3 linked regions of the Homo sapiens genome follow. The protein of the gene in region 1 interacts with the protein of each later gene in a biochemical or structural test. Each region holds a gene or a part of one and is shown on either strand. Other genes may lie near its edges.

Region 1 (3,619 bases):
CCCACCCTCCCTCCCGCATTTCCCACTCCCTAGACCCATCCCTCCCTTTTCCCCAAAAAAATTCCCAGGAAAAAAAAAAAAAAAAGCCACATTTAGACCTTCCACTCATGCAAACCGGCAAAGAAAAATGGTGGGGGCATGTGGAAGGCAGGGGCCCGCTGCGGAGTCCCCTGCTTCTCCCCCCAAAAAACCACCTTTGAGAAGAAAAAAAGTGGAAAAAATAAATGAGAAATCAAGGAACATGGGGAATTACGATGAGGGCAGGGGTGACCCCAGACCCTGCCTTAGGAGAGAGCGGAGGCCTGTGGCCCTGCATCCCTGCAGCGGGTGCTCCTCGAGGGGGCCCTGACTTCTGGAATGTGTGTGGGAGAGGATGGGGGAGGGCAGGTGGCCCCCGGTGGGTCTGTGTGTGCATTGGGGGCAGGTGGGGGCGGGGATCCTAAGGAGCAAGGGCTCGGAACAAGGAGCCCAGCTCCCCCCCAGACCCCAGGTTCCTGGCGTTCAGGAGCCCAGTTCTGGGGTGCGGGGATACATGCAGAGGAGTGTCCCCCCTCCAACAGGCTGGATCCAGTTAGAAAGGAAATAAATAAGAAGGGGTGGGAGGGAGGCCGGGGGGAGCCAAGGGCTTGGGCAATTCAGTCCAGACCAAGGGCCCAGGTGATGGAGGCAGGGCGAGTCCAGGCCAAGCCAGGGCAGGAATCAGAGTCTCTCTCGGGCTGGAACCCAGATGTAGGGGCCTGAGAGGTCCTCGATGACACGCTTCACCTTGTGGTAGATCTCCTCAAAGCTGTCACCCTCCACGATGGCTGGGAGTGGGGTGGAGCAGGGAGTGAGGCCAAGGAAGGGCCAGAGGACACCTGGCCAAGGGGGTTGCACCAGCCCAGAGGAAGGGGCACCTCTTTCCAACTCTCCAAGCCATAAGTCCTGGGGCTGCACCCGCCCACAGGGGCACCTCTTTTTTTTTTTTTTTTTTTTTTTTGAGATTGAGTTTTGCTCTTAGCGCCAGGCTGGAGTGCAGTGGTGCGATCTCGGCTCACTGCAACCTCTGCCTCCCAGGTTCAAGCGATTCTCCTGCCTCGGCCTACCGAGTAGCTGGGATTACAGGTGCCCGCCAGTGCTGGGATTACAGGCGTGAGCCACCATGCCGCGCCCACAGGGGCACCTCTTTCTAAGCCATCCACTGGGGGTGGCGGGGGAGCTCTTTCTAATCCGAGCAAGGGCACCCTACATGCTGGCAACAGCCTTGCTGTGGCCTCACCTGAGAAGCACTCTGTGAACTCCTGCTCCAGCTTGGTGGCTCTGTCGAAGGCTTTGCGGGCTTGCTCCTCTGTGATCCGCTTGTTAATCTCTCTGTGAAGAGGGAGGGAGAGCAGGCCTGAGACTGGACCCACCTGACCCTGCCTTTTATCTCCTCTATCCAGGAATGTTAAGTATTCTTCTATTTGGAGCACATAGCAAAAAAAAAAATACAATTCCCAATATCCTCTGGGGCCACAGATGAGAACCACCCCCCACCCCCCTGCCACCCGCAACCGCCCCAGCCAGGTGTGGCTACTCCAGGGACATCTACGGAGCTTCATCCTTCCAGCCTTCAGCCCCAGAGATGGGATTCGGACTCCAATTCCCAACAGCCCTAGAGGCCCTGACTCGCCCCAGCTGGTATGCCCCAGGGGCTGCTGGGAAATGTAGTCCTGTCTAGCCAAGGCAGGAGAGGAGGGGAAAGACCCGATTCCCCCACATCCTCTGGGTTCCAGGGATCCCCCTCAGGGGCTGCTGAAACCGCTGTCCAGGGTTCTGAAGGGAGAGTTGAACGCAGACGCCTTGTGAGGCCCAGGGCCACAGGTGTTGGGGGAGCAAAGGGGAGGCCCCCAGGACCATACTCACAGCACATTCTCCAGGGAGCGGGGGCGGATGAAGATGGCGATGGGGTGCAGGTGGGCCGCCTGCAGCCGCCGCACGGCATTGGCCGAGACATCGAGGATGCAGTGCTTCCCCTGGGGGCAGGCAGGGTGGGCGGAGGGGGGCCAGCGGGTGGCGAGAAAGGACAGAGAGCAGTGCCGGAGGGACACGGACGGGGAGAGGTGGGGAATGGGAAGTTGGCCGAAGGGGAGTGACATGGATGTCAAGAAACACGGGGGCAGAGAGTCAGGCAGGAAGCGGGTATGGACAGAGTAAAAGACAGAGGGAAAGGAAAGGGAAGATGGAGAGCACGGGAGAGGGCAGGGACAGGACAGAATGGAGGAAGGGAGGAGCACCAGGCAGGCAGGGACCCAAGAGATGGTGGCAGAGCCGGGGCAGCAGCGAGTGGGGCGGGGTGTGCAAGGCAGAGGTGACACAGGCGGGAAGGAAAGCCAAGAAAAAGGAGAAAGGAAGTAGGATAGAGGGAGGAGGGAGGGGAGGACGGACAGAGGACAGACAGATGGAAGGAACAAGGAGACAGATGGGAGGGAGTGAGGCAGATGGAGAAAGGAACCGTGGAGGGAGGGAGGGAGGGCAGGGTGAGGAGCAGCGGGGAAAGGAAAGGAGTTAGCAGAGGAGTGGGAGAGGGGAGCCGGGCCCCAGAAAAGGGTGAGGCAGGGGAGAGGGCCAGCGGGGAGTCAGGAAAAAGGGAGGGACCCAGTGGGGAAGGCCAAGCCACCAAAGACAAGGCCATGGGAAGAGAGGAGAAATGGGGCAAGGAGAAGGGAGTGGGGAGAGAAAGAGGCCAGATGGTGGTGGGGAATTTGGGGTCAGGAAGTGAGGGAGGTGGGAGAGAGAGCAGGGGCAGAGAGCAGGCAGTCAGACAGAGTTGCCCAAGAGGAGAAGGAGGTGGAGGAGCGGAGTGGAGACCCAGCAGGGAAAGAGACAGAGAGAGAGAGAGTTAGAGAAAGCTGGAGGGAGGCAGTGGGGTGGGGAGAGGGGAGAAGGAAGAGGACCGGGTGCCCGCCAGGTCCTACCTGCTCTGCCACCTCTCGCACGGACTGGACGCTGGTCCCATAGAGGTGGCTGTTGTACTGGCCGGCCTCAATGAACTTGTGCGCCTGAATGTCCTTCTCCATTTTCTCCCGGGACGACACAAAGTGGTAATCCCGGCCATCTATCTCATACTCCCGCTTGGGCCGTGTCGTATCTGCCAGGAAGTCACCCCACCCCCCAAAGATCTAACCACCATCCCTCTAGCTTAAATCCTGCCTACTTCAATCAAATCCCCATAGTGCCCAGCTGGTCCTTTGGTGAAAGGGAGCTGCCAGGGAGACCAAGACTGCAGAGGGCCAGAACCGCTTCCCCTAGCACCCTCCAGGGCCTCCAAGTCTCTGGCCTGGGCATGGGTACTATGGAATGAGAGGGTGGCTGAGAAGCACCCCTTCTCGGAGAAACCCTGTATCTCCCTACACACCGATCCCCCAGGAGGCTCTGCCTATGGCCCCAGGGATGGGCCTCCCCTGCCCCACCCCCACTTCCACCTTCTCCTCCATCCAAGGCCCCAGCACTCACGGGGAACACAGGATCCAAACTTGTCGGGGAACTCGGAGAGAAGATCATCGTTGGCGCGGTCCTTGGTGGGCCCAAGGATGATGATGGGGCGAGCATAGTGCACTGCAGAGAGAGCCTGGCTTAGGCCGAGCGCAGGGTTGGGGGA
Region 2 (3,649 bases), on another chromosome or scaffold:
TAATCCCAGCTACTCAGGAGGCTGAGGTGGGAAGATCGCTTGTGCCTGGGAGGTTGAGGCTGCAGTGAGCTGTGATTGCACCACTGCATTCCAGCCTGGGTGACAGAGCCAGACCCTGTCTCTTAAAAACAAACACACATACACACACACATACAAACTGCGTAGTTTTTATGTGGGGAAAACCGAGGTTAAAAAGATTAAGCAACTTTTGACCGGCATGGTGGCTCATGCCTGTAATCCCAGCATTTTGGAAGGCCAAGGTGGGTGGATCACCTGAGGTCAGGAGTTTGAGACCAACCTGGCCAACATGGCAAAACCCTGTCTCTACTAAAAATGCAAAAATTAGCCGGGCATGGTGGTGGGCACCTAAAACCCCAGCTACTCGGGAGGCTGAGGCATGAGAATCGCTTGAACCGGAAGGCAGAGGTTGCAGTGAGCCAAGATCAATTGTGCCATTTCACTCCAGCCTGCGCAAAAGAGCAAAACTCCATCTCAAAAAAACAAAACAAAACAAAACAAAACCAAGATTAAGCAACTTTCTCAAGGTCACACAGCTAGTTAGTGGCTCAGTAAGGCATAGGGTTAAGGTCTCCAGATCTCCGTTCAGCAGTATTTGTTTACACTATGCTCCTAATCCAATTATCTCATTTGATCCTCACAATCCTTTGTATACAACCACACCTGGTAACTTCTTTCTCTTTTTAAAATTTTTTTTAGAAATGGGGTCTCGCTCTGTCACCCAGGCTGGAGTGCAGTGGCACAATCACAGCTCACTGCAGCCTCAAACTCCCAGGCTCAGCCTCAGCCTCTGTAGTAGCTAGGACTACCGGCACGTGCCACCATGCCCAGCTAATTTATTTTTTAGAGACAGGGTCTCACTATGTTGACCAGACTGGTTGAAACTACTTGTTTAATGTCTGATTTCCCTGTGAGGGCAAGATCAGGTCTATATCCTGAGCCTAGCACAGGGCTACACATATAGTAAGTGCTGGGTGAAAAAAACTGGAAGCATTAGCCCCATGGTTGGGTGAGGGATGTGCCTAAGTCACATATTACAAAGGTCAGTGGTGGAGCCATCACTGACACTCTGACCCTGTGCCTGGTTCAGAGCCCTTTCTCAAACACTAGCCTAAAATCCACATTTCCAGCCAGAATCTCTCATCTCCGGATGCCACTGGTGGTGCCCCTTGTAAGTGCTGAGGGGTTTGCCTTCTCACAGGTTTTGTCCCAGCCAAGGCACCACCTCTAAGAACAGAATAAAGGTGCTAGGTGAGGTCAAACAAGCCTCCAGTTGCCAAGTGCCTCCCCTTGATCAGTGTATGCTGTGTCCAAAGGCCCAAACCCACCCTTCCCAGTTGCCATACCACCCTAAGGTAGGTTTTCCATGTCCTCAGGCCCCAGTCCTCTCTTCTGGTTCTCCTTGCATCCTTCCTTATCATCCAATATGTCTGCCAGGCAGAGACCAGGAAGCTCAACACCGCTTATCCTATTCCTTCCCCAACCAGGTCAGCCAACCCACTCTCCTGCTGGAAGGAGACAAAGAACCCCTTGATGTGCCCGGGGCAAGCCAGCCATACCAGGCACCTTGGGGAGCCCAGAGCTGTGACAACGCAGAGTCACAGCAGCCCACTGCCCTCTTCAGAGGAAGGCCACAGCTGGCCTTGCTTCCCTGTAGCCAGAGGGCTCCAGAATGGACTCTGTAAGAGGCCAAAGCCACTTCAGCTAGTCCAGAGCCTTCCTACCTCTCCATCAGCCCACATGGCAGTCATGAACCAAGCACTAATGATTTGCCAGCCTCTTTATCCTCACTGCTCCAGACCTCTTCCAGGTCTCACCACAGCCCTTTTAGGCCATCCTTGATTCTCCCAACAGGTCTCACTGCCTGCAATCCAGCTCCTCTTTATGCCGTCTTCCATGCCAGACCTGGACTAACTTTTATGCAACACAGGAGGCCTCAGCCTGACATTCAAGGCTGGACTCAGACCGCCCAACCCATTTCCTGGACTAACTTTTATGCAACACAAGAGGCCTCAGCCTGACATTCAAGGCTAGACTGAGACTGCCCAACCCATTTCCCTAACCTACCCTTGCTTCGTATCATTCTACTGCCTCCCGTTCTTCTTGTCGTATCATCCTACTGCCTCCCGTTCTTCTTGTCATCTCTGCTCTTGCCACACATGCTCAAACGACTGCTTTTGGGAGGGACTTTGCACATGGGCCCCCTCTCATCCAATGGACTGCCCTGCTTTGCCTCTTCTGAAGCCTGGATCAAATGCTACTACTTTCTAGGCTCCTGCAGGTGGGGCTGGCTGCTTTTTCCTCTGTACTCCCAGAGCAACTGCATGCCTCAATGACAGCCTTCATCACTCAACACTGGAAAGATTTGTCTGTGGTTCTATTTTTCAGCAAGTCTGTGAGTGCCTTGAGGGCAATAAAACACAGACATCTTGTTCAGTTCTATATCTCTTGTCCAAATCACAGGGTCTGACAGAGTAGGTGCTCAATAAATGTGTGGTAAATAAGCTCACTGCTAAGATGGATAAGCTGGCAAAAGTAAGCCTTGGTTTGCTCTCCCAGGCTGCTGGGTCTGCTGAGTATTTCTCTACCTGAAGAGGTGTTGAGTGCTAAGCTATGGCAGCCTCTGAAGACCTGGACAGGGCACAGAATGGAGTAGGGTAGGGTAGGGGGAGGAGAGACGGGAAATGGAAGGATGAGACAGAGAAAGCCAAAGTTGGCAGCTGCCCTGAAATCCTAGGTGGGGGCTTCTAAGCTGGTTAAGTATCAGGAGCATTGACTTGCCAGTGGGGTGGCCAGTACAGTGTTCTCCCTGCTGGAGAGGGTCTCTGGGCCCAGGATTGCGGCAATAGATTTACCAGGGGCAGACTAATCAGTTAAAGGAGGCCTCCTACCCCTCAAGTGTACTGTCTGCAGGATAAAGTGATCAGCTAGGACAACGGATGGATGATGGCAGGGCTCTGCTCTAGTCGGCAATGCATCCTGAGCCTGTAGGCTCAATTACCTCGACTGAGGAAGAGAAAGGGGAAGAGAATGGTCAGTGCTATGTAGCTAGAGGAGCACTGGGTGACAGTCGGAGGACCTGGGATCCCTCTCCGGTCTGGCTCCACAGTTCACTAACAGCAAGAGTTCTCCAACCTTCAGATTCCTCACCGGTACAAGCAACATAATCCCTGCCTCATCTACAAAGTAACACTTCTTCCAAAAGGCACAGACTAGATATCAAAGTCAAATGGCCATTATGCAGCATGTTGGGGTCAAGACCAATGCAATCCGGACTCTGGCCTATGGGAGGACTAAATCAGGCCTGATCTGGCCATGCTTCCAGGACCTCTCCAAGGATTTTCCTCCCTGTGCCTTTCTCCTGCTTGATGGCCATGACCTTTCCCTGTACTGAGACCTGCTCTGCCCTCCATACTGGAAGGGGGAGGTAGCCAGATTCCTGCTAACTCCTGCCCTGGGTGTGGGGACCTCAGGGACCTTAGGGACTTAGGGACAGTAAGCACCTGGCACCCTGCCTGCTGCCACCTTAGCAAGGTGTAGTCACTACTGGATGCAGTGTCAAGAAACAGGTTCTAGTCCCAGTTCTGCCATTTACCAGCTGGCAAACCTTGGGCACTTTTTCCTCGGTCTT
Region 3 (3,649 bases), on another chromosome or scaffold:
TGTAATTCCAACACTTTGGGAGGCTGAGGCAGAGGGACCACCTGAGGTCAGAAGTTCAAGACCAGCCTGGTCAATGTGGTAAAACCCCATCTCTACTAAAAATACAAAAAAATGGCCAGGTGTGGTGGTGGGTGCCTGTAATCCCAGTTACTCGGGAGGCTGAGGCAGGAGAATTGCTTGAACCCAGAAGATGGAGGTTGCAGTGAGCCGAGATCGCGCCACTGCACTCCAGCCTGGGCGACAGAGTGAGACTCCATCTCCAAAACAAAACAAAAAGAAAGAAAGAAAGAAAGAACACTAGAGAAAAATTAACAATGTGTTAGACAGAACTTTGTCTCAAAACAGGCAAGTTTTATTGTGGACTATAGTACTGATACCATGGCAACCTGTTTTCCTAAAAATTTCCTAACACAGGCCAGGCATGGTGGCTCGTGCCCATTGCCCATAATCCCAGCACTCCGGGAGGCTGAGACAGGCAGATCACTTGAGGTCAGAAGTTCGAGGCTAGCCTGGCCAACATGGGGAAACCCTGCATCTACTAAAAATATAAAAATTAGCTAGGCGTGGTGGCGCATGCCTGTAATCCCAACTACTTGGGTGTCTGAGGCACAAGAATCACTTGAACCTGGGAAGCCGAAGTTGCAATGAGCTGAGATGCCACCACCGCACTCCAGTCTGGGTGACAGAGTGAGACTCTGTCTCAAACAAAAAAAAAATTTCCCAGCACAGTCCTCAGGGTATCTAAAACTAAAGGAAATATATATCTCTATCTATTTGGTGCAACAGTCATGATCATTTCCTCTCTTAAACAGGAAAACAAAAGTCACACCTCTAAATACAAGCATATTTGCCAACCTCCTTAGTGTGTGGAAGCTTATAAAAACCAGCTGAAACAAATAAACAAAACCAGCACAACATGGAAGAAGGAATTATAACACTTTACCCTGCACATTTAAAGCAAAATATGCTTTTAATAATATATTTTATATAAACCTCTATAGTATATATTTTATAAAAATGGATTTCAACTAAAAACTAAGACCTGGTTATTAGCCAGAATAGGAAAGAACAGTCTGCAATTCACTTTGTTTAGGCAGAAACATTTATTTTTAGTCAGCAGTTTCCAATGTCCACACAACTAAACTAAAACATTTGGACTTAACTTTTTAAAGTTAGCTATTATTTCAGCAGCAGCCTAAACAAAACTATAATTATCAAATTATTTTCCTGATTAGGTAGCTTCAGTATTTGTTTTTAGCTTTACCATAAACAAATAATTTTGCTATCCTACGAAGTCATTCTTGAGCCACCTGAATTACTGGGGCAGAGCAGCAATTTTAGCTACTTCTAAAATTACAAAAAAAAGCTACTATTAGAACATTCATAGTGGCACAGAAAGCTCACAACACATGGCTTTACACTGATACTAACAAGCTTCAAGTTTACCATCAACTAAGGTTATACAAGTAAAAAATAGTGCCTTCTAACGAAAGCCTAATTCTGTTAAATGAAACCATTGGGGTTTATTCCTTTTATTCAGAAGTATCATACAGCTAAACAAGTCAAGTCCACAGGGAAATAGTATTTCAATAGCTGCAACATGGTGCCAGCCCAGGCTTTGTCGGCCTTCCTTTTCCAAGAAACAGAGATGTCTCTCTTTACTTAGTCCATCTGCCATCAGTGATAACCAGATGCCTGTGTGACAATTCAAAACTTAAAAAAAGTACTTCCCCCTCCTAAAGCCTAACAGCAGAGATGAGTCCAATAGTCAGTGAACAGAAAGAAAGAAAGAATTTCAATGCTCTAGTAGAAAGCCTCCCAACCAAAGAAACAAAGCATCCAAGTGGTCCAACAGTTCACCTTTAAAATAATATCCAGTGCCACTGCTACTAGCACCTGCTAATACTTTTTAAAGCTTTTAACTAAAGTTCTAAGTGCTTTATGCTAATTCTCACAGCAACCCTGTAACGTAGTAGTAGTATTAACTCCCTAGTACAGATGAGGAAACTGGGGCTCAGGGCAGTGAGAAAGCTATTTAATATTTAAGGCCATGCCATTAATTAAAAGCACAGCCATGATGCTGAACACAGGCTGCCTGCATCCAGAGTCCGTACTCTTTAAGTGTTGTACCAATCCCAATCTCAAGAAAACGTAACTGATTCTGATCAAAACTCTTCTGTCTCACAGTGAAAATACTTGTAATTTATCAGGAGCGGGAACGTTAACACCTGATTCTTTGGAACCATTTTATTAATGGAAACAAATTTTTTTACTGCTTTTAAGTAAGACTTAAGTTCTCACCTAGTGAGTTAAAAAACAAAAACATACCATGGGCCAATGTCTACACACAGATGTCTATCTTGTGCTAAGCACAATTCAATGCTGAAATCATCCACATATGTCCTAAGAAAACTCTGTCCTTAACACACCGTCTGGTTTTCAGTATTTTTTATTAATGGATGGTGAAAGTAACCAACAGCCAAACTTCTGTGCTGTACTTTTTGGTGAAATTTTAAACATTTTCATTATTGACTCCCACACAAAGGCACATCTCCACTACCCCAGAAATCACCCTATTGAGTTTTTTTTTAAAAACATTTAATGGGATCCATAGCATGCTTCAACCCACAAAACCAGCCATTTAAACCAAATTCTCTATTTTATCACCCTTTAGTCACAGACAAGTAGAATTTCTGATGTGACCTGATTCCTTTCCACTAAAGACATACTTCCAGAATCTTGCTTTTTCACAACTACACAAATACACAAACTCCATCTGTCTTCTAAAGAAAAGATTGACTGGTTAATAATACAAAAATCAAATTTGTCTATGTAGCCTGGAAAAACCTCAGATACGTATACAGTCTCTCATCCTTTTGAAATTTCCCAAAGTGGTAGTCATGTGACAAGAGCAAATATCGTGTCTACTCAAGTGAAGGCAGTCCACCATTATCTTTATTGTTTGAATTGGTTAGAAGCTGTAATCATGCTTGAGAAAGTGTCACTGCTTGTAATTTGCATGCCCACAGCCAGAATACAAAGTTGAAATTTTAGGCATCAAGAATCAGATTTCAAAAAGGTTTCCTTCATCCACTAGCTAAGCTCTTGAAGTGAAATAAACAAACATGTATCTCCTTCTATTAACAACGTAATCTTCAAAATACACACACAGGGCAGGGACATACAATATGATGATGGCTACTCATACTCCTGATCCTCAAGAAACTTCTAGTTTAGCAGGCATGATGAAGTCCATTCACCAATAGTGACAGTACCAGGCAGTATGTAATAAAGAATTTAAAATTCATATTTGTGTCTGTCATGTTTTATTACACACATGTCATTTCTCTGCTACCTACAAGTGCACAAAAAGCACCTGAAGGGAAATACCTCTCTCATCCAGCTTTGCACACCTGACACGGCACCAGACATACAGAAGGCACAACAAAATGGATTTAAGTTTCAGGGAATCTTTATTAGTTCGAATGTCACAATACAGCTAAAATTTGAAAACACCAGAGATTTTAACTCAGAGACAATGTGGAAACATTCTACTATAAATTCTTCTAAAAATCAACTGCAACGTTCATATTTTATAGCAATAATTTCATCACATGGTCTATGATGAAACAGAAGGAAATCAATCACC

The links.
Region 2: the proteins of DLG4 (region 1) and TBC1D10A interact in a test that uses a peptide from one of them, tested with the Homo sapiens proteins (one large-scale study listed by IntAct).
Region 3: the proteins of DLG4 (region 1) and TBPL1 interact in a test that uses a peptide from one of them, tested with the Homo sapiens proteins (one large-scale study listed by IntAct).

What each region holds. Positions count from the first base shown.
Region 1 is NC_000017.11:7,190,009-7,193,627, forward strand, and holds part of DLG4 (disks large homolog 4), read right to left. Parts: intron 3,577-3,619; coding exon 3,475-3,576; intron 3,110-3,474; coding exon 2,937-3,109; intron 1,995-2,936; coding exon 1,885-1,994; intron 1,351-1,884; coding exon 1,259-1,350; intron 807-1,258; coding exon 700-806; 3' UTR 1-699. UniProt on the Homo sapiens protein: Postsynaptic scaffolding protein that plays a critical role in synaptogenesis and synaptic plasticity by providing a platform for the postsynaptic clustering of crucial synaptic proteins.
Region 2 is NC_000022.11:30,316,917-30,320,565, forward strand, and holds part of TBC1D10A (TBC1 domain family member 10A), read right to left. Parts: intron 1-3,649.
Region 3 is NC_000006.12:133,956,111-133,959,759, reverse strand, and holds part of TBPL1 (TATA box-binding protein-like 1), read right to left. Parts: intron 1-3,649. UniProt on the Homo sapiens protein: Part of a specialized transcription system that mediates the transcription of most ribosomal proteins through the 5'-TCT-3' motif which is a core promoter element at these genes. Seems to also mediate the transcription of NF1. Does not bind the TATA box.